3 linked regions of the Homo sapiens genome follow. The protein of the gene in region 3 purifies or fractionates together with the protein of the main gene of each other region. This does not show direct contact. Each region holds a gene or a part of one and is shown on either strand. Other genes may lie near its edges.

Region 1 (7,024 bases), on a different chromosome or scaffold from region 3:
TAACGAGATCTTTGCTGATTCTGTTTTTTCACATTTTGCCCCAGTTGGGGCTGAAGAAGACCCTGTTAAAAGCACCCGGCTCTACCAGCAATCTCGCAAGGAAGTCCTCCTCGGGGCCTGTTTGGAGCGGGGCATCCAGTGCGTGCACATCCCCAGCAGTGGGCAAAGGTGAGGCAGCCGGCATCATGCTTGGACCCACATCTGGCCAGGTGAGGCCTGGAGTGCTGCTCAGGCCTTGGAGACTGTTTCTGCAGAACCACTTAGGCTTGGCAGGACGTCCCGGAGGGCGTGCTGTGTGCGGTGGACCAGGCTGTGGACTGAGTTGCTGTACCTGCCCTCAGTGCCTCTGTCCCATGAGGAGGGCACACTCAGATGGGTGGCTTCAGTCTACGGGGTACACATGGCCAGAAAGCATGTATGATACCCCGTGCCTGAGAACATGGACACTGGAATCACCCTCATGTCCATGTCATGAGACACCAGTTTTAAAATAGGACTATTCCAGATAATGTAGGGCATATGGCCCCATAACTCCTGGGTGCCTGTTTAAATCCATGCTCCCACACCTGTTTGAGGTCAAGCCACATTTCAACCTTGCCAAGCCACAGCTGCCATCTAGTGGTAAGGGAAAGCCTTCGCCTTTCTGCTCTTCAGAGCGAAATCCTCTTCGAGGTGCATTGGCCATGTGGCGTCTCGGGGTCGTTCAGGGCAGCATGGTGTGGATTGTGTTCACAAAATGTAAAAAGTGGGCCGGGCGCAGGGGCTCACGCCTGTGATCCCAGCACTTTGGCAGGCCAAGATGGGTGGATCGCTTGACCCCTGGAGTTTGAGACCAGCCTGGCCAACATGGTGAAACCCTGTCTCTACTAAAAACACAAAAACTAGCCGGGCATGGTGGCGGGTGCCTGTAGTCCCAGCTACTCGGGAGACTGGGCCACGAGAATGGCTTGAACGCGGGAGGCAGAGGTTACCATGAGCCGAGATTGCATCACTGCACTCCGTCTCAAAAAAAAAAAAAAAAATGATAAGTGTGAACTCTCTAATCAGATTGATCTGATCTGGAATTCTGACTCTGCCATTCTGTGATTAAGAGAGGTTTGTGTCCTTATCTTTATAGACTGAGGTGATGACCTCCTGAGATCAAGCAATCCTCCCACCTCAGCCTCCTGAGTAGCTGGGACTACAGGCACATGCCACCACACCCGGCTAATTTTTGTGGGTTTTTTTTTTTTGAGATGGAGTCTCACTCTATTGCCAGGTTGGAGTGCAGTGGCGCAATCTTGGCTCACTACAACCTCTGCCTCCCGGGTTCGAGTGATTCTCCTGCCTCAGCCTCCCAAGTAGCTGGGACTACAGGCACCTGCCACCACGCCCGGCTAATTTTTGTATTTTTAGTAGTGACGGGGTTTCACCATGTTGGCTAGGATGGTCTCGATCTCTTGACCTCGTGATCCGCCCGCCTTGGCCTCCCAAAGTGCTAGGATTACAGGCACGAGCCACTGCGCCTGGCCCACATTTTTGTGTTTTTTGTAGAGAGGATGGTCTCACTATATTAGCCAGGCTGGTCTCGAACTCCTGGCCTTGAGTGATCTCTTGCCTTGGCCTCCCAAAGTGTTTGGATTACAGGCGTGAGCCACCACTCCTGGGCTAAAGTTTTTCTTTAAGAATCCTTTACCAGATCGTCTGCGTATATTGGTAGCTCAGTATGTATTACCCTAGTTTATCTGGTCTTCTATTTTAAATAGTGCTTATGGTTAATATGACGCAGCCTCCTTGTAATTTTAAAGGAATCAACCAGTAACAATTGCGTCTTTTTTCCTTGTTCCCTGCCCACCTCTGTGACCAGACAGGTGAGACATGTGACTAGACTATCCCCTTCCATCTGCTCAACTAATGTAGATTTCTCCTGCCAACATAATCAACGAAGATAGGAGAGCTTGAATTTATGCATGCTTATGTACATGTTAGTAATTATTTTGAGAATAAGTACCTTAGAATACACTCAGCTAAGCTAAAAGCTGCCTGAGCCATCCTGTGTTTGATGATGTTGCCTGAAGGGCTTATAGAATATTGTTAATGTGTCTTATGTTTAAGGTAGATATGCTAAAGACAGCATAACTTCTGTGTGTTTGTTAAATAGCTTCATACTTTTATAATAATGTGATTTTTGTGTGTATACCTTCTAGCTAAATCAAGTGAATTTGCAAGTATTCCTGCAAATAGCTCCCGGCCTCTGTCAAACATCAGCAAGTCAGGCAGAATGGGACCCGCCATGCTGCGGCCAGCTCTGCCTGCAGGCCCTGTGGGGGCATCCTCCTGGCAGGCCAAGCGGGTCGATGTTTCTGAGCTGGCAGCGGAGCAGCTCACGGCACCCCCCTCAGCATCCCCCACCCAACCCCAGACTCCGGAAGGTGGCGGCCAGTGGCTGAACTCCAGTTGCGCTTGGTCAGAATCTTCTCAATTGAATAAGACTAGAAGTATCAGACGGCGAGATTCCTGTCTAAATTCCAAGACAAAGGTTATGCCTACTCCTACAAATCAATTTAAAATTCCTAAGTTTTCTATTGGTGAGTAATAGATACATTTTAATGTGTCTTTAAAAAATACTGAAGAAATTGCATTTAAAGTTTTAAACAATTATTGATGGCATTGATGGTGTTTTTAGTTCTTTCCTCCAACAGTGCTTTCAGGTGTGACCCGCTGTCTTCTCGCCCACGTTGTTTTGGGGGGTCACTGGAGGCTCCCTGAATGTCTTACGTTCGTTCCTGTGTGTGTGACACCCCAATGCTCGTAGGCTGCTTGTAAGGTTTTCTCTTTAGTGTTACTGTCGGGAATTTGATTATTATGTGCTTTGAGGTGGCTTTCTTTGCCTTTATCCCGCTGAGGGTTTCTTAAGCTTCTTTGATCTGTGGGTTGGTTTTTTTCAGCAAATTTGGAAAACGTTGGCCATTATTTCTTCAGCTATCTTTTCCTCTTTCCACTTTATTTCCTAGGACTCTAATCACATCTATTTCAGGCCTCTTGACGTTGTCTCACAGGACACCGAAGCTCTGTTCTTTTTTTTATTTCAGCCTTTTTTCTTTTTCTTATCTTTTTTCTTTTCTTTCTTTCTTTTTTTTTGTTTTTTGTTTTTTGAGACGGAGTCTCGCTCTGTCACCCAGGGTGGAATGCAGTGGCGCGATCTCAGCGCACTGTAACCTCCACCTACCGAGTTCAAGCAATTCTCCTGCCTCAGCCTCCCGAGTAGCTGGGATTACAGGTGCCCACCACCACACCCGGCTAATTTTTTTTTTGTATTTTTGGTAGAGACGGGGTTTCGCCATGTTGGCCAGGCTGGTCTGGAACTCCTGACCTCAAGTGACCCACCCATCTCGGCCTCTCAAACTGCTGGGATTATAGGTGTGAGCCACCGTGCCCGGCCCAGCCTTTTTCCTTGAGCTACAGTTTGGGTAGTTTCTGTTGTCAGATATCATTTCTTCTGCAGTGCCTAACAGCTGTGAAGCCCATCCAGTTAACTTTGTTTCTAACATAATAGTTTCCCCTTATTTCTTCTCATGGTACTTGGGTTTTCTTTTACATCCTCGTGAGCAAATTGATAATGGTTTTAGGGTCTACGATTCTTCTCATACCATCTTCCCCATCATTTTGGGGTCTGTTTCGACTGACTAATTTTGTTTCCGGGTTTTGGCCTCATTTTCCTGCCTCTACATTTTTCACAAGTTTTTCTTGGTTGTTGGATATTGTCAGGTGTACACTTTTGAATGTCTGGATTTTGTTGTCTTTCTCTGAGGAGTTGGGTTGGGCTTGGCAGGCAGTTAAGGTGCAGATCATCCTTCCGAGGCTTTTTATGCTTTGAAGTGGTGGGTCTAGCATAGCCTTTCCGCCTCCCGCCACCGGCGTCCTTCCCAAGGCCTCTGCTGCACACCCGTGTGTCCCGCAAGGCCCGCGAGACCCCTGCACTCCTGCTGCTGCAAGATGACACCTTCTCGGCCCTGTGAGCTCCGCTCGTTGCTCCCTGGTAAGACGGCGGTTTCTCGGCCCTGTGAGCTCCGCTCGTTGCTCCCTGGTAGTTGCTCTTCTCTTGACCTTGAGGACTCCTGCCCTGCACCTGTGCACTGCCTGGTGCTCAGCCAGAGACTCGAGATTCCCTTGGGTTCCTAGAGCTCGTTCTGTCGGAGTAGCCCCCTCCTCTCTAGTTTCTGGCCCTCAGATTGCAGCCACCTCAGCCTCCTGAGCTCCAGCCACTGCCTTCTCCAGTCAGTGAGGCCACTGGCCCCAGCAGGTGTCTGGCCATTAGTGGGTGGGTGTTTGTAAAGTTTTCATGAATTTCTTGAACAATTGTGTGCAATGCAGAAAGTTCTCAGAGCTGACTTAAGGTGAGAGGAGCGTCCTGGCCTCCTCTGTCAGGCAGATCTGCCCTCTGGGTGCTTGAGGATTTTAAGTTCTGGCAGTGCCGGCCAGCACAGGCAGCCTGCAACTCCCAGAAACTGCATTCTGAGTCCTGCTGTAGGAACAAGCTGTTCTGCTGAGTGTCTTCTCTGTGCTGGAATGCTTTGGGGGACAAGGGACATCATGATAAGACAGACCTACTCTCACAGAATTTCTGTTTAATAGGAAAAGATACGAAATGTTATCAGATGAGCAGGCCTGCAGATCCTAGCACAACAAAGGGACTAAGGGAAGATGGTGTCCTGGAGCTGGCATGTTTGGGGAGGAATTTGCATCGGGTGGTTCTTTGGCAAAGATGGTCAGGAGGTGACACGGGACTGAGATCTGAACCAGGAGACTGAGGCAGCCGGTAGGAAAGTGCAAGGGGGAGCACTCCAGGCAGAGGCAACGGCAGGAGTGCAGAGGTCCTGGGGCAGGAAGGCGTGGGACGTGCTCTGGGAGCAGCATGGGGGCCGGAGGGTGGGAGTGCAGCCGCTGCGGTCGGGATTCTGCGTAGACGTGCGACAGCTGGTCAGTACTCCTTGGTGTCAGGGACCCAGGCTTACTCCATCCTGTGCTGCCGTGATGAGCTTCTCATCCTCATGGTCTAGTGTGGCTGCACCGGCTCTGGCCCTCATACCTCCCGGCAGGAAGCCTTCTTCTAGGTGAAGAAGAGCAAATCCCCACCTTTCAAGGACCCTCACTGCAAGTTGTCCCTGTGACTCCGTTTGTGTCCCATTGAGTACGACGCTTCCCTGCACAGGATGCTAGGACACGTTGTCTTTATTCCGCACACAGCTGAAATTTCTTACTGAGAAGAGGAAAGTTGCTGTTGAACAAAAACTAGCAACCTCAGCCAGTCAGTGACCGAGGGGCAGGGTAAGAAGAGATGAAGATGGAGGGGCAGCCCGAGGCCGGCTCCCAGAGCGCCGCGTGACCAGAGCGGACCCTGGAGTACCGTCAGTGCAGGAGGACGTGCATAGGAGAGATCAGAGCAGAGCGACTTGACCTTCAGAAGGTCCCTCCACAGAGGGAAGAGCAGAGTCTCTGGGCCGAAGAGTGGTGGGGAGGGTAATGCGGACCTGGCCCTCACTGTGTTGGGGAGGAAGCTAGTGCTGGGGAAGGAGGCTGGAGCGCTGCGGTCTGCCTGACGTTCTGGTAGCTTAGGGCTCATGTGGCAGTGCAGAGAGGGACTCGAGTGTCCCTGAGGTTCTGGCGGAACCTGGGTGCTGCCACTCATGTGACAGGAGGGCTGGAAGAGGCAGCGGGCAGAGTCCACGGCCCCATTTTGGAAGTAGTGAGGGTGAGAGGCCACTTAGGCTGCAGCTGAGGGGTGGAGCAGGCTGAGAGCTCAGAGGAGAAGCCACAGCTGGAGACCTCAGTGTAGGTTTCAACAGCAGAGAGCTGAGTTTGTAGAGATGGGAGCTGTGAGCTGGGCACGGTGGCTAACTCCTGTAATCCTAGCACTTTGGGAGGCCGAGGTGAGCAGATCACCTGAGGTCAGGAGTTCGAGAGCAGCCTGGTCAACATGGTGAAACCCTGTCTCTACTAAAAATAGAAAAATTAGCCAGGCATGGTGGCGCATGCCTGTAATCCCAGCTACTTGGGAAGCTGAGGCAGGAGAATCACTTGAGCCAGGAGGCAGAGGTTGTAGTGAGCCGAGATGGTGTCACTGCACTCCAGCCTGGGCGACAGAACGAGACTGTCTCAAAAAAAAAAAAAAGAAAGAAAGAAAGAAAAGAAATGCGAGCTGTGATTGGGTGGGTTCTGCAGGGACACCCTACGGCCCAGGTCATGTGGAGGTGTGTTCAGTAGTGTTTGCTTCCCTTCTGCCTGAATGCCTGGAGCCAGGACATGCGTCTGCCATGTCTCTCCTGACCACGTTGGCACAAGTGTTGGCTGGTCTCCTGGCTGTCGGGCTGCTTGATGCCACAGGACTTCTGCTAATCCCAAATCCCTGTTGGCTTTGCCCTGTTTCCCAGAGCGTGTCCCTGCGGTCTCCTTACGCACCTCTCAGATGTGCATTTCACCTTCGGCAGGCGGTTCCTCCTCTCTCCACAATGCTGGGAACAGGACTGTCTCTTGCACGCCTTTGGTCATTCATCAGGGTCAAAACTGGTCCCACAAACTCAGCACTGGCCGGAAGAGAGGCCCCAGGGGAGCAGCCACGCTGTTGGGAACACACAGCTCTGGGAGGCACGTGGTGGTGTGCACTTTTTGGCTGAGAGCACTGGTGGTGTTGCTCATTGGCTGTGACACCAGCTGTCACCGTGGAGGAGAGGTGAGGGCTGAGGGCACTCACAGCGTGGGACCACATGAACGGTGCCCTGTAGTGGAGGCTTTCATATGTGCACTTTCTCAAAATACTCGAGGCAAGCAGCATTCTTTGTAAAACAGTCCAGTTACAAATGTTGCTATTTACTATGAGTCCATGCTGCCGGGTCACCCAGAGGATTGAGACTTGGAATTCTGGCTGTGGGCTTTGCCTCCCCGGTACTGGGAGCTGCAGTGGAGACGCGCCGTCCAGGTTTAGGGAAGAGCTGATGTGGGCCTGGGAGGCGTGCGTGCTCAGGCAGCCCTAGGGCAGTCGTGAGGG
Region 2 (7,024 bases), on a different chromosome or scaffold from region 3:
CTCTGTATTTTTGACACTCAGGGGAACAGGAGAATGACCTAGTTATTTTCCAAGTGTTAGCAATCTTTAGAGTGGTGCATCGTTGTGGACAGACTCTTCCTTGTTCCCAGTGGCTTGTCAATTTCTTTGGCTCCTTATCGGTGGAGGATTCTGTGGAGTGTCTGCATGCCATGCTGTCTGCTAACATCAGACAGAACCTTCAGCTGTGTGTGCAGGTGGCCTCTAAGTACCACGAGCAGCTGGGCACGCAGGCCCTGGTGGAGCTCTTTGAATCCTTCAAGAGTTACAAAGGTAAACCATGCAGCCTCTCGCCGACCCCACCATGTGACTACACCTCCTTTCTCAGGTGTTGCTGCCTACCTGCCCGCCTTAAGACGGCCTTCCTGCAAAGCCAGGCAGGATGCAGCACTGGCTGCCTTGGGTGCTCAGTCGGTGGCAGAATGCTACTGCCATCTCATGTGCACCCTCAGCTTCAGTAACCTTTTTGGTATTTCCAAAGGAAGAAATCAGGTTGGTTGGTGATGGGATGGAGAAACTTATGGAGCCCGGTGTGTCTACGCAGCACAGTCTGGCAAGAATTCATCTAAAAGCCTGTGTCGTGGGTACAGTGAAAGGGCCTGATGTCTGGTCTTTACAGCCCCAGGAGGGAGGCTCTTTGGGCCTCTCCTAAATGAGAGCCCACGATAGAGGGTGCATTGCTTTGTGGTGTCTGCTACCCAGTTGATTGTGGGGGGCTGACAAGGTAACCTGGTTGTCTTCCTTTCCCCTTCTTGGACATCACACCAAAAAAGTGTTCTAGGGCAGTTGGGATGGGAGTGGCTTTGTTAGGGACAGATGGGGGCTGTCTGGCCCACCCAGGATAGAGACTAAGCATTTGTCTAGGCATCAAGCCACTGCCATGTGTCCAGTGAGGTTGGGGCATCGGTGGAGGGTGGGACATGACCCTGTCCTCAGGGAACTGGCCTTCTCTTTAGAAGACACCCCTGTAGGAAAGACCATGGCAGACGATTGAGTGGAGCTGGGCTGGGAGAGGGCAGTAGAGTAGGTTGGTGGAGAACCGTCAGCCCAGGGGCTGCCCATTCCCTTCCTAGCATCAGGGTCTCACAGTTACAGTGAAAGACCTCGACAGGGAGGGGCCTTCTCAGATGTGTCGTACCCTGTTGTTACTGGTGCCTCCTGGCTGGCCTCTGTAATGATGAGGAACATCATTAGCCTCTGTGAATGCTGTCCTCTGGGGCTCACCCTGGGGCTCAGCATGTGGTGCCCATGTCACTGTCAGCTCTGTGTTGAGTTGCAGGCCTCCTCCTGGAGGCCATGGCTTATTTCTCTGTCCCTTGATGTGTCTTTTTAGAGAAGCAGTCCCACCACCATTTCAGATTACCTCAGTGGGAATTACTCTTGATGACGACTATCTAGGTATACCTGGGCCCACAAAAGGAATTTCACTTGTACCAAATATCTAGTATTTTACATCAAAACATGCCAGGTATACCTGCCAAATATAATGGAAATCCGACTAGCTATTTTTGGGAGCTGCCAAAACAGACAAATGGCATATTGATTATGAGTTCTGAGTGTGCTGTGGGTCCCTGGAGAGTGGAGCAGGGTCATCGAGGGAAGGTGGGCAGCAGCTACGGAGGAGACAGGCAGGTGTTACAAGGACAAAAATGGAATGGTCTCTCTTCATAGGCCTCTTCTACTTCCTGGGCTCAATCGTGAACTTCAGCCAAGACCCAGATGTGCATCTGAAATACATTCAGGCTGCCTGTAAGACAGGGCAGATCAAGGAGGTGGAGAGGATATGCCGAGAGAGCAGCTGCTACAACCCAGAGCGTGTGAAGAACTTCCTGAAGGTGTGTTCCAGTGCTGCCTCCTTCCATGAGCTGCCCTTGCTGATGGCAGGTGGGGCAGACCATCCGCAGGACGTCCCAGGGGCAGGAAGCTGGATCTGTCTCGCCAGGGACCCCTTAGTCCCAGGGACAGAGCTCCACTTTATGGCTTAAAGTTCTAAAGTAACCCTTCTATCGTTTTAAGAGTGTGGAAAGCAGCTTGAGGCTGTGCTCTAAGTATCTGGCACTTATTGCTGCATTGTAATTCATCAACATCCCATTAGTGCCATTGTCAATTAGGCAGGCAAAGCTGCAGAAACAAGTAGACCACTCAGCACTAGTGTCATAAAGAACAGGAAGCCTACTTCCTTATGTGGCAGTCCAGGGTAGGCTGGAGGTCAGTGGGGTGACTTTCCTTCCCACTGTACTTCAAGGACCAGCTTCATGGCTGCTTTGCCGTGTTCAGCACCTCACCTGGATGTCGTCTTCCCAGTCAGCTAGAGGAAGGGAAGAGCACAGAGGAACCAGCATAGGTGGTTTTTATGGGCGAGGCCTGCAAGTGGCAGATGACACTTGGATTCACGTTCCATTGGAGGAAATGAGGTCATGTGGCCACACTTAAAACTTCAAAATGTGATCTAGGCACGGGACCACATGAGGGGAGGCATGATTGTGGTGGCCTGTGGCTGTCCTACCCAAGTGCCATCATCATCTGGGAATGGTGGCCGGGTGTGTTTCCATGGCCTGCGGCTGCGTGTCTGAAAAGGCAGCCCTTACCGCAGGTGTGCTGTTCTTGAGAATGGCCTGGTTTCTGTTGGGTTTGCACATAATGAGCTGCTTGTCTTAAAAGATATTTTTGTCCAGATTTGGAATGTTAATGCCAAATGTAGCAGTCTTTAACCAAATACTAATATCTTTCTCTCACTTATTTCCCAAAGCAAATGCCATACCACAAAACGACAGCCTATTTAGAGCAGTCTCATTCTGAGTCTCCTGTGTGTCACTCTGCTGCAGAGACAGAGCCGTCCCATGTGTGCAATGAGTCCGAGGTCTGGCTGTCTGGTTTCTCCACTCCCTGACTTGTTCTGTGCATTCTAATCCTCAGGAGGCCAAGCTCACAGACCAGCTTCCCCTCATCATCGTGTGTGATCGTTTTGGCTTTGTCCATGACCTTGTCCTATATTTATACCGCAACAACCTGCAGAGGTACATTGAGATCTACGTGCAGAAGGTACTGCTGGCTCCCTGGAGTGACACCCGGCTGCCTCTGGGCCCCAGTCAGTGGCAGTCTTCCCCTCAGAGGCTGCCTGTAACACCTGACATTTCAGAGACTATCATTTTGAAGGGTGGTGGGTTCGTGTGCTCAGACTGCCAGAGTAGAAGACCACAGTCCAGGCAGCTGAAACAACACACATTTATTTCTCACAGTTTTGGAAGCTGGAAGTCCATGATCAGGGTGTCGGCAGGGCTGGTTTCTGGTGAAGGCTGTCTCCCACGCTTGCAGACAGCCTCCTGGCTGTGCCCTCACAGGGCCTTTCCTCTGTGCATGTGCACTCCTGGTGTCTCTTCCTCTTCTTAGAAGGACACTAGTCCCATTACATTAGGGCCCCACCCTTGACATTGATTACCTTCTTAAACACCCTCTTTCCAAGTAGAATCCCACTAGGGGTTAGGACATCAGCAGGTGAATTTTGGTGGGACACAGCGCAGTGCTAAACAGGAGCCCTTTCAGGGTTTTGCCCAAACTGTCCACGTCGTAGGAGGCTTCTAACAATAACTTGTGTTTGCAACACTGAAGTTACTTGACCTTGACTACCCTAGGTCAACCCTAGCCGGACCCCAGCTGTGATTGGAGGGCTGCTTGATGTGGATTGTTCTGAGGAAGTGATTAAACACTTAATCATGGCAGTGAGAGGACAGTTCTCTACTGATGAGTTGGTGGCTGAAGTAGAAAAAAGAAATAGGTAAGGTGTCCTTACTTGGTGTTTTCTCTTACCCCTGGATTCTAGTGTCTGTTGTTGTTTCTGTCTAATTCTCCAGGACTGTCTCTATAGCTGGTCGTTCATGTACACATCTTAGATGTAGCAATGAGTTACTTGCTATTGGTACTGTGAAGACCTTGGGGGAAAACCTAACAGTAGAAATCAGTTTGGAAACCAGGTCCATCTTGGTCCCTAGAGCAACCTGAAGTCAATGGACTCTGAGATTTTTTGTTTCAGGAAACATCTGTCAGAGCCCTGGAGTTGCCCTCAAGACTTCCAGTGGTAGCCTTGAGACTTTACAGCACCTTCCTTCTTTCAAAGGCTCAAGCTGCTGCTTCCCTGGCTGGAGTCCCAGATTCAGGAAGGCTGTGAGGAGCCTGCCACTCACAATGCACTGGCTAAAATCTACATCGACAGCAACAACAGCCCCGAGTGCTTCCTGAGAGAGAATGCCTACTATGACAGCAGCGTGGTGGGCCGCTACTGTGAGAAGCGAGACCCCCATCTGGCCTGTGTTGCCTATGAGCGGGGGCAGTGTGACCTTGAGCTCATCAAGGTGGGTAGCAGATGTGCTGAGCTGCCCATGTAACCCTGGGCTCCCAGGGAAGCTTTCAAAGGTGTGCCTGTGGGGAGCTGATCAGGGCTTTCTGTGCACCTGGAGATGGCAGGTCATGAGATTATTTCCTTGTGATTCTCACAGCTTTTGGGAACTTGCTCATGCAATTTGTATGCATTGTACCTGTAGACCAGTTGGTCCTGAACCTGACTTATCATCCCTCTGCTTACAGTCCTTACTATTGCCTGGCAATTTGAGGGCAGAATTGAACTCCTTGGCCTGACTCGTGAGCTCCTCTGTGGACTGCCACCTTTCCCAACTCCCGAACTTGATCAGCCATCCATCTTGCCACCCCACCTGGAGAGGCCTGCAATTCCCTGGGTGCCTCATGTCCCGAGTACCCTTGTACTTCATGCCCCCTTTTTGGGGTAACCCTCTACACAAGCCCTTCCCCATCACCTGACCAATGAGCTCTTGCTGGCCTCTCCTTGAGACATCTGCCCAGGTCTTTTGCCTGCATCTGCCCAGGCTTGGATCCACATATAATTACATGTTTAGGTTGAATTGTATGAACTGTTCCTACCTAATCATTTGATCTAAAAATCCAGACATGAATAGGGCACCTGTGAGGTTGGTGCCACACCAGCCTGCTTGGGCTTTTCCTGTGATACACAGGCGGACTGCGCTGCATCCGCAAGCACGTGTGCACGCCGCTCAGCCTTGTGCCGGGCATCTGGCACTCAACAGATCTGATCCTCACCAGGATTTAGCAAGTGCTGCACACGCTAGAACATTCCAGTGGACTGTTGGTGTTTTGGAGATCTGTTATAACATTCAGAAAAAGGTCTCCAGATCTACCAGTGAAAGCACAGTTTACAGTTTTTAGATCTTGAAACATTGCAGTGTTTGTGCTGTTTTATACCAGTTCTAGGCTGTTCTGATAACATTTTACAGATGGTTTAAAGCTAGCTACATATGAGTACTTAAATTTAACTAAATTAAAAATTACCAGTTTAGTTCCTGTCACGCACCACATTTCAAGGGCTCAGTAGCCTCCCATGGCTAGTGGCTGTATCAGACAGAATGGGAGACAGAGCATGTCCCTGAATGCAGGAAGTCCTACTGGCCAGATATGTGGCACATCCCTGGGAGTTGTTGTAAACTTGGAAAGGGCATTTTGAGGTAGTTTGAGTCCATCGTTAACCCTGTAGGATGCTGCTCATCCCATGTCAAAGCATAGCGTCTTGCCTGGGCCCTGACTGTCCACCAAACCAGTATCAGGCACACAGGGAACGAATTGGGGTGTGTCCTCCCAAGCAGCTTCCGCTGGTTGGCTGCTGTGTCACACACATGAGTGTGCTCATTTCAGGTGTGCAATGAGAATTCTCTGTTCAAAAGCGAGGCCCGCTACCTGGTATGCAGAAAGGATCCGGAGCTCTGGGCTCACGTCCTTGAGGAGACCAACCCATCCAGGAGACAGCTAATTGACCAGGTGAGGCACAGAGATGGGTATGTCTGCACACCTGCATTTTGCCGTCCGATCATCATTGTGGCTCAAGTGACTGGTTTCATTTTTAATTTAAAACATCTTGGCTGAGGGCAGTGGCTCACGCCTGTAATGCCAGCAATTTGGGAGGCGGAGGTGGGTGGATCACTTGAGGTCTCAGGAATTCAAGACCAGCCTGGCCAACGTGGTGAAACCCCATCTCCACTAAAAATACAAAAATTAGCCGCACATGGTGGCACACGCCTGTAATCCCAGCTACTTGGGAGGCTGAGGCAGGAGAATTGCTTGAACCCAGGGGGTGGAGGTTGCAGTGAGCCGACATCGTGCCACTGCACTCCAGCCTGGGCGACAGACAGAGACTCCATCTCAAAAAAATAAATAAATAGGCCAGGCATGGTGGCTCACGCCTGTAATCCTAGCACTTTGGGAGGCCGAGGCGGGTGGATGACTTGAGGTCAGGAGTTCAAGTCCAGCCTGGCCAACATAGTGAAACCCCATCTCTACTAAAAATACGAAAACACACTGTGTGGCGCATGCTTGTAATCCCAGCTACTCAGGAGGCTGAAGCAGGAGAATCGCTTGAACCCAGGAGGTGGAGGTTGCAGAAAGCCGAGACTGCACGCCACTGCACTCCAGCCTGGGCAACTGGGTGAGACTCTGTCTCAAAAAAATTAAATAAATAAATAAATAAATAAATAAATAAATAAATAAAACATCTTAGTCCTTACGAACCTTCTCCCCTGCAGAAATAGCTTGCCTAAAAATAGCTTGATTCCCCAGGGTAAGCTGACTTGGAACTGTTAACTGGCCAAGGGCATAGAGTTGGCCCTTGGATCCAAAGCAGGGATATGCAGCCCAGGAAGAGAGTACCTGGTGTCATGCCTGCATGCTGGGCCCAGCTCAGCCCTCGTGGACAGAGGTGAAGTAGCTTTCAAGGTTGTCTCAGCTGACTTCCCTTTGTTGAGGTGCTCTTTATGCCCCTGTGACTATCCAGCACCTCCTTGGAGACTGGGCAGAGTGCTGGGGCCAGGGGTCATTATTGGGTATGGCCTGGCAGGTGGGAGTCTGCCTCGGCCTCTGGGAGGGCTTCCCACAGCCCTGTGGAAGAGCCTCCTCTCCAGTTATAGCCTCACAGACATTTGCAGATAGT
Region 3 (7,024 bases):
GCAGGAAAACAGAGTTGTTTGTGGGCAGAATGAGTGGGAGGAAAAGGCAAGGCAGGCTGGCTTATAAACCCATAACCCTTTTAGTTTACACAAAGGACTAAACCTGATCGATTTCAACTTGGGTTTCCCTCCACAAGAAGAGTAGAGGTTTCATGACTCCTGTCAAATCATCACTAAGACAACAAAAGTTTGAATGTCAGGCTCTTGCTCCTTTGCAGCTAGCCCAAGACCAAAGAGCTCCTCAGTGACAAGCACATCCCCTGTCAAGGTTGCAGGCCCAGAACAAACAGAAAATCAGACACACACACAGGTGGCCCTCCCCTTATTTGTCCTTCACTTGAAAGTAGCAATCCTCAGCCAAGGCAGGAAGGGGCTCAGGGAGGCTTAGGAGAGGGGAGGGAAGAGGAATACCTGACCTAGGACAAGCTCTGGAGGCACGAATACAATGCAGAACTTCATTCCATAAACAGCCTCAAAGTGGGCACAGAAAAAAATGTTTGCCATCTCTGAGAACTGTGGGTTCCCCAAACCTTCTCAAGCCTTGAAAGAGCTGACAAGCACAAGTGCTACCTGTAATAGGGGAAATGTTCTGGGGTTGTTCTTGATGAGCAAACTCATCCAGCTGCAGGAGTCAGTCACTGCTCTGGCTGGCTGGCTATGAAAAGGAAATTCTTTTCCATGGCTGTCACTGAATAATTCACAGCTCTTGTACTGTGACACTTAGGCCTCAACTTGGGATAAAAGAAGGGAGATGCAGTCTGGGGACTGACAATAGAGTACAGCACACCCACCCCCAGTGCAGTGCCAGGCGCGACGTGCTCCTAGTGCTTTGGTGACCCAGTGGTGAGGCAGCTGGAAGGCAGGAGGCCTGAGGATGCTCTCACAATTAACTGGATGCCCTTCCTGTCTCCGACTTTCCTCTTTCAAACTTCTCATCTTTCTGCCTTATCTCTCGGGTCCCCTTAACATCTAGCTACTGCAGAAGTCACCCAGAGAGAATCATACTTGCTTGAAATGAGCACCCCGTTTTCTTTTTTCTTTTCTTTTTTTCAGACTGAGTCTCGCTCTGTTGCCCAGGCTGGAGTGCAGTGGCGCAATCTCAGCTCACTGCAACCTCTGCCTCCCGGGTTCTAGTGATTCTCCTGCCTCAGACTCCCGAGTTGCTGGGATTACAGGCACACACCACCACACCCAGTTAATTTTCGCATTTTTAGTAGAGATGGGGTTTCACCATGTTGGGCAGGCTGGTCTCAAACTCCTGACCTCAAGTGATCTGCCCGCCTCAGCCTCCCAATGTGCTGGAATTACAGATGTTGAGTCACGGTGTCCGGCCCCCATTTTCTTTTCTAAAAATATTCACTCTTTACCCATAGACAGATAACAAGGATGAATTACTTTATACATCTAAATGGGACCTATTCCTTTGAACTCTAAAGTTTAGAGTCAAACATGGATGGAGAGGGGGAGTAGTCAGCAATATAAAAATCTCCAGGGGAGGGTGTAGACCCTTGGAAGAAGTCCCCCAAAGTGACTCTCAAATGGATCCCACCTCCAACCAGTGAAGAATCACTGGAATAAACTGTAAAAACCATCTCTTCTGTCCTAGAGCCCTGGTGACAATGGCTAGTGTGCCACTAGCGTTATGCTCTCAAGAGTCAGCCCTGTGCTGCAAGGTTCCCACAAGGCAAGTGACCTGCTTCCTAAGCAGCTCTACATTCTCAGTGAGCAGTGGGGAAGTTCCTTCTCTCTGGAACTTAAGAGGTTCATCTGTGAGACCAGCTTACCCAGCATTCTACAGTTCCAAGTACAGAAAGGTACCAAGGCCCAAATTCAATGCCTGGAGGGACTAAACTTTTAAGACTGAGCTCCTAAAAACAGGTGTCATGGCCAGGCGCGGTGGCTCACGCCTGTAATCCCAGCACTTTGGGAGGCCAAGGAAGGCAGATCACGAGGTCAGGAGATCGAGACCATCCTGGCTAACACAGTGAAACCTTGTTTCTACTAAAAACAGAAAAAAATTAGCTGGGCATGGTGGCGGGCACCTGTAGTCCCAGCTACTCGGGAGGCTGAGGCAGGAGAATGGCGTGAATCCAGGAGGTGGAGCTTGCAGTGAGCCGAGATCGCACCACCGCACTCCAGCCTGGGCAACAGAGCAAGACTCCATCTCAAAAAAAAAAAAAAAAAAAAAACAGGTGTCATTACTCCCTCTGAGAACAACGGATTCTGTATACAGAGAATATCCCTTTCTTGACAGTTCAGCAAAACTTCCTTGAAAAAAATTTCTGCAACAGAAAGGCTGTTACCAACATATTCATTATCTAAGTTTGAAAACTTGTGTTAAGTTATTGACGCATCACAGACCCAGAGCGGGGAGGGTCGGCACAGCTACAGTACTTCAGACTAAACTTAAATGCTGGGGTCGCAGGCTGGGGGAGTTCTCAGGGCTCGCAGGGTGCTTGCACACAGTCCCCACTCGGCTTTACCGATCTGAACTTCCACCTGGGAGAAAATCATCTTGAGGGAGCAGAGGACACAGGAGCCTGGACCTGTCAGCACCACCTACTGACCACAGGCTCAACAACAGCCCCACGTAGCTGATGGAAGCCATCACCACTGGCAACCCAGCCTGCACACCAGAGAGCAGTCCTGTGGGACTGGGACTGTGGAGTCCTGTGGACTCCACATGGAACCTGACAGGCACTCCTTGAGCACACCGCCCCCAGAGGAAAGTGACCAGGACACAGGCTCAAGCCGGAATCCAATGAGCTGAAGGGCTGCTAGCATATAAAAGAGAGTCCAACTGCTCTGTCATACTGGACCCACAATAGCACTGGCTGGCTGGCAAAGCCGTTAGCTCTCTCTCCTGCCACATCTCTGTCTAACAGAGCTGCCAGAGACAAGGGCACTTAACCCAACCTGCTTCCTGCCTCTGCATACGAGAACCCAAGGCTCTACCCTGAAAATTAAAAATATCCCCAGGCTCGGTCTGGCCCGTTTATACACTGAAGTGAATGGATTGACTATTCAGTGAAAGTTGGGCTCTGAACCTGCCTGCCCTGAGGGAAGCAACACCACATATCCTCTCTTTGCTGCTTCCAAGAAGGGCTCTAAGTGTAGGGCATTAAAGCCCAGCTGCTGGTGAGTAGTGATATGAGAATGAAAGCGTTTTTCTCCTCACAACTCCTTAACCATCAGTAACTAAATAAAATCTATTTCAAACAGAACATTTTTAAGAAGTCAATTCAAGACTTTTTAAGGCACAAATAAGTACCCACAGAACCCTCAATTCTAAAATAATCATGTTGGAACATCCTTGGCTGCCTAATTACAAAGCACATATTCCTGCCAACGGACCCCTTCATGAAGTGGCTTTCAGGGGGCAGGGCTATATTGAGGAGACTCAACATGACCAAGTCTATAATCATATCCAAAGTAACTAGATCTGGGTGTATTCATGACACCCAGCTTTCGTTTCAGGGTTCCATGGAAAGTAACTTTTCCCTTGGCTGAATCACACCATTACAGGTTATGCATATTAACCAAACTCTCAGAGAGCTAAGCTCACTACAATTGGGATGGCTAAACAATAGGGTGAATTATGCTCACAAGACCCGAGAGACTTGCAACCTGTTTCAAGCACTTTCTTTAAAAACTGCAGACATTTCACACTAAAGGAGGCAGAAGCCAAAAACCGAGACTGGATGCTGAGAATGGATTTGATTCAATTTTGGAAAACAAAGTGTGCTACAACCACCACGGACTGACCTGTTGTTTGCTTTTGTTTTCTGTAGCTGCTCGTCCTGTCTTGCATACCATTCTTCTAGCTCCTTTATTGCCTTTTCTTTCCACTCTGCTTCTTGCTTCCGAGAATTGGCATCTTTGAAGGGAGAGAAGAGAAAGACAATACAATTGAGGCAAAGTGCAAACTGAAGTTCATCAGTTTATTTTGGTCTTGCTGAACTTGTGGTGGGTGCAGGTCCATGTCTGTGTGCCTGTTGGGGGAGAAGAGTAGAGAGGGGAAGATAAACTTCTGTTTTCTCTGTTTGCACAACCAACTCTGATTTCAGTGCTTCTATTCCTGCCTGGTCTTTCCCACAGTCCTATTCCTGGTCTTATCCCAGTCCACTGACATCTTAGTGGGTCATTAGTTTTGTTTTGTCTTGTTTTGGGCAGAGCAAAAGAGAAGGGTGTATGTGGAAATACTGACTTCTATTATTAATAGGAAAAAAGCCTTCTGGGCACCAATTGGGGGAGAAACAATTATAGATGATTCTTTACCAATGCTGCCAATATTAGTTCATAGTAGGGTATTCATCTTAATCTTTTACCTCTTCTCCCAAACTAGTCCATATTCCAGGTTTGACAATGGTTTTGTGGAACACAAGGTGGCACTCTCATAACTAAATATGGTAGAAGCACTTCTGTGAGGCAGGGTGCTATTAGGACAATTACCAAAGGTAGAGATGATTCAGGAACCAGAGAATGATAGAACACAGAATATTAGCACTAGAGAGGACCACAAAGCATCTACTCCTACTTGGTCTGCAGTGTGTTTGTGGCAGAGCCAGGGCAGAGCTACAAAAGAAACTCCACTGGAGAGAAGTGCAGGGGGTAGAGGTATGGGATCATTGCTAACAGTTAACCTAAAGGTTCTAGAAATGACAGCAAGAAAATGCATACCTAGCAGGTTTGCTAGATTGGATTCTCAAACATGAAACATGAAGTTTCTGAGGACTAAATATGGTTTTCTCTAAGACACTAAGCTGAAGAGACATACATCAGTAGATAGTGAGAGATAAAGAAATACATGCCGGCTGCTTGTGGTGGCTCACGCCTGTAATCCCAACACTTTGGGAGGCCGAGGCAGGTGGATCATCTGAGGTTAGGAGTTCGAGACCAGCCTGGCCAACATGGTAAAATCCCGTCTCTACTAAAAATACAAAAAATTAGCTGGATGTGGTGGTGCATGCCTATAATCCCAGCTACTGGGGATTACTGGGGAGGCTGAGGCAGGAGAATCGCTTGAATCTGGGAGGCAGAGGTTGCAGTGAGCTGAGATCGCACCACTGCACTCCAGCCTAGGCAACAAAGTGAGACTCTGTCTCAAAAAAGAAAAAAAAAAAAAAGAAATACATGTCATAGCTACTGAGGCAGCTGACACTTGAAGTTAACCTGATACTTCACTTTAAACAAGTTCTTCTGTCTGGCAGGTGTTTTATAGACATCTAACTCAATCTTTACAACAATCCCAAGAAGGTAAACTCTGATCACATTTTCAGCAGTGAGAAAAACTAAAGCTCAGAAAGTTTGAGTGAATTTCCTAAAGGTTATAGTAAGTGACAGAGCCAAGATTCAAACCCAGATCTGGCTGTAAAGCTTACACTTTGCTTACCTCATTATGCTTCCTCCAAAGGGAGGGACAGAAAGGGAGGCAAGCCTAGAAATAATCACAAAACGTGACCACCAGTGATCTGGACAGAGTTTTGAAAGTGCAGACCAAGAGCCCAAACTGTAATTAGTGTCTTTGAGAAGGAGAGTAGATAGCAGTAGCGGTGTCAAGTAACTACTAGAAGGGATGAAAAATGAAGTATTCTTGGGCATTTTTAGGGCCTTTGCAAGAAAGGTCTTATAGTAACAACCTGCAAAAGGCTGTGTGTAACTATAAGAAAAAGCCTAATAGCAGCTAGAAACTCCCCCAAGTTTCAGGTTAGTAGGAACGTTCATCTCGGTATCTAATTTGTCGGAAGGTGATCTGTCGTTCAGAAGAATCATTTTCTCAGATTTTTCACTGATGACTCTAAAGTATATACAGTAAACTTTTTTTTGTTTTATTTGAGATAGGGTCTCGCTCTGTAGCCCAGGCTGTACTGCAGTAGTTCTATCACAGCTCACTGCAGCCTCAATCTCCCAGGCTCAAGTGATCCTCCCACCTCAATCTCCTAAGCAGCTGGGACCACAAGCGTGCACCACAACCCCCAGCTAATTTTTTTTTTTTAGTAGAGATAGGGTCTCACTATGGTGCCCAGGCTGGTCTTGAACTCCTGAGCTCAAGTGATCCTCCCACCTCAGCCTCCTAAAGTGCTGGGATTACAGACCTGAGCCACACCACCTAGCCTCTACAGTAAACATCTAATATGTGTCTATCCATGGCATGAAGTACAGATGTGGAATGCAAGATTTAGCTATGCTGCAATGAGAAGCTGTGGGCTGGAAGTGCCATGTGACAATACCTAATTCAAAATGTAAGGCCCCCTTTTCAATCATGGTGAAATTACTTCCAAATAATTACCTTTTTGATTGGACAGTATTTTCTTTCAATGTATTTTGATGTTAACATTTACTATACATTAGGACTAAAATATAAAATTTATCTCTGAAAAATGAAATTAAATAAAAATGGTGACCTCCTGAACAGACTGTGGTTACTGCATAAAATAGTACATTTAAATTGGTCTTCTGGCTTTTGCAGCTTTAGTGCCACTGCAATACTAATTTAGAATTCTTCCCCTCAGAGGATGAAGAGGAAGAGTCCCCTTAGAGAGCAAAGCACATTCACAGGTGCCTTCCCTTCTGGCCACCCTCGTTACTGGTCAGAGAAAAGAAAATTACTTGAGAATGTAGCCAGCAGCTAGGCTGAAAACCACTGGCACCGGTTCTCTATTTTTAGCATCGCGTGCTTTCTCACAGTTTTTGCAAGGAAAAAAGGTGAAATTGAAGGAACACCTTGTTCATGAACCAAGTGAATTCAATTCAGTTGGAATGCAAGGCCAAATGTTGTACTTCTCTCAAAAAAAGCACTTTGAATTAAGAAAACAGCTCATAAGAGTATTCCCCAAGTACCCAATTTCATAATTGAAAAATTAAATCTTTCCAGACACCAAAGTAGACTCTCTCCATGGAGAAGAAAAACTGCTAGAGCTTGGTAAAACAGAAAAGATAAATTTGGGTTCTGTAACATGAAAAATACTACAGCAGTACTAAGACCAGCTAAATCTTGCCTCTAAGCATACTCAAGAGACACAAA

The links. Proteins that work in one complex are often made in the same cells at the same time.
Region 1: the proteins of CLTA (region 3) and GTSE1 purify together in Homo sapiens (affinity purification with mass spectrometry; 2 studies listed by BioGRID and IntAct, with this or other methods). This does not show direct contact.
Region 2: the proteins of CLTA (region 3) and CLTCL1 purify together in Homo sapiens (co-immunoprecipitation; 3 studies listed by BioGRID and IntAct, with this or other methods). This does not show direct contact.

Annotation. Positions count from the first base shown.
Region 1 is NC_000022.11:46,313,846-46,320,869, forward strand, and holds part of GTSE1 (G2 and S phase-expressed protein 1), read left to right. Parts: intron 1-44; coding exon 45-168; intron 169-2,186; coding exon 2,187-2,567; intron 2,568-2,665; exon of another isoform or gene 2,666-4,018; intron 4,019-7,024. UniProt on the Homo sapiens protein: May be involved in p53-induced cell cycle arrest in G2/M phase by interfering with microtubule rearrangements that are required to enter mitosis. Overexpression delays G2/M phase progression.
Region 2 is NC_000022.11:19,218,720-19,225,743, reverse strand, and holds part of CLTCL1 (clathrin heavy chain 2), read left to right. Parts: intron 1-110; coding exon 111-291; intron 292-1,689; coding exon 1,690-1,853; intron 1,854-2,934; coding exon 2,935-3,060; intron 3,061-3,650; coding exon 3,651-3,793; intron 3,794-4,132; coding exon 4,133-4,367; intron 4,368-5,736; coding exon 5,737-5,859; intron 5,860-7,024. UniProt on the Homo sapiens protein: Clathrin is the major protein of the polyhedral coat of coated pits and vesicles. Two different adapter protein complexes link the clathrin lattice either to the plasma membrane or to the trans-Golgi network.
Region 3 is NC_000009.12:36,200,921-36,207,944, reverse strand, and holds part of CLTA (clathrin light chain A), read right to left. Parts: intron 3,878-7,024; coding exon 3,766-3,877; intron 3,225-3,765; exon of another isoform or gene 1-3,224. UniProt on the Homo sapiens protein: Clathrin is the major protein of the polyhedral coat of coated pits and vesicles.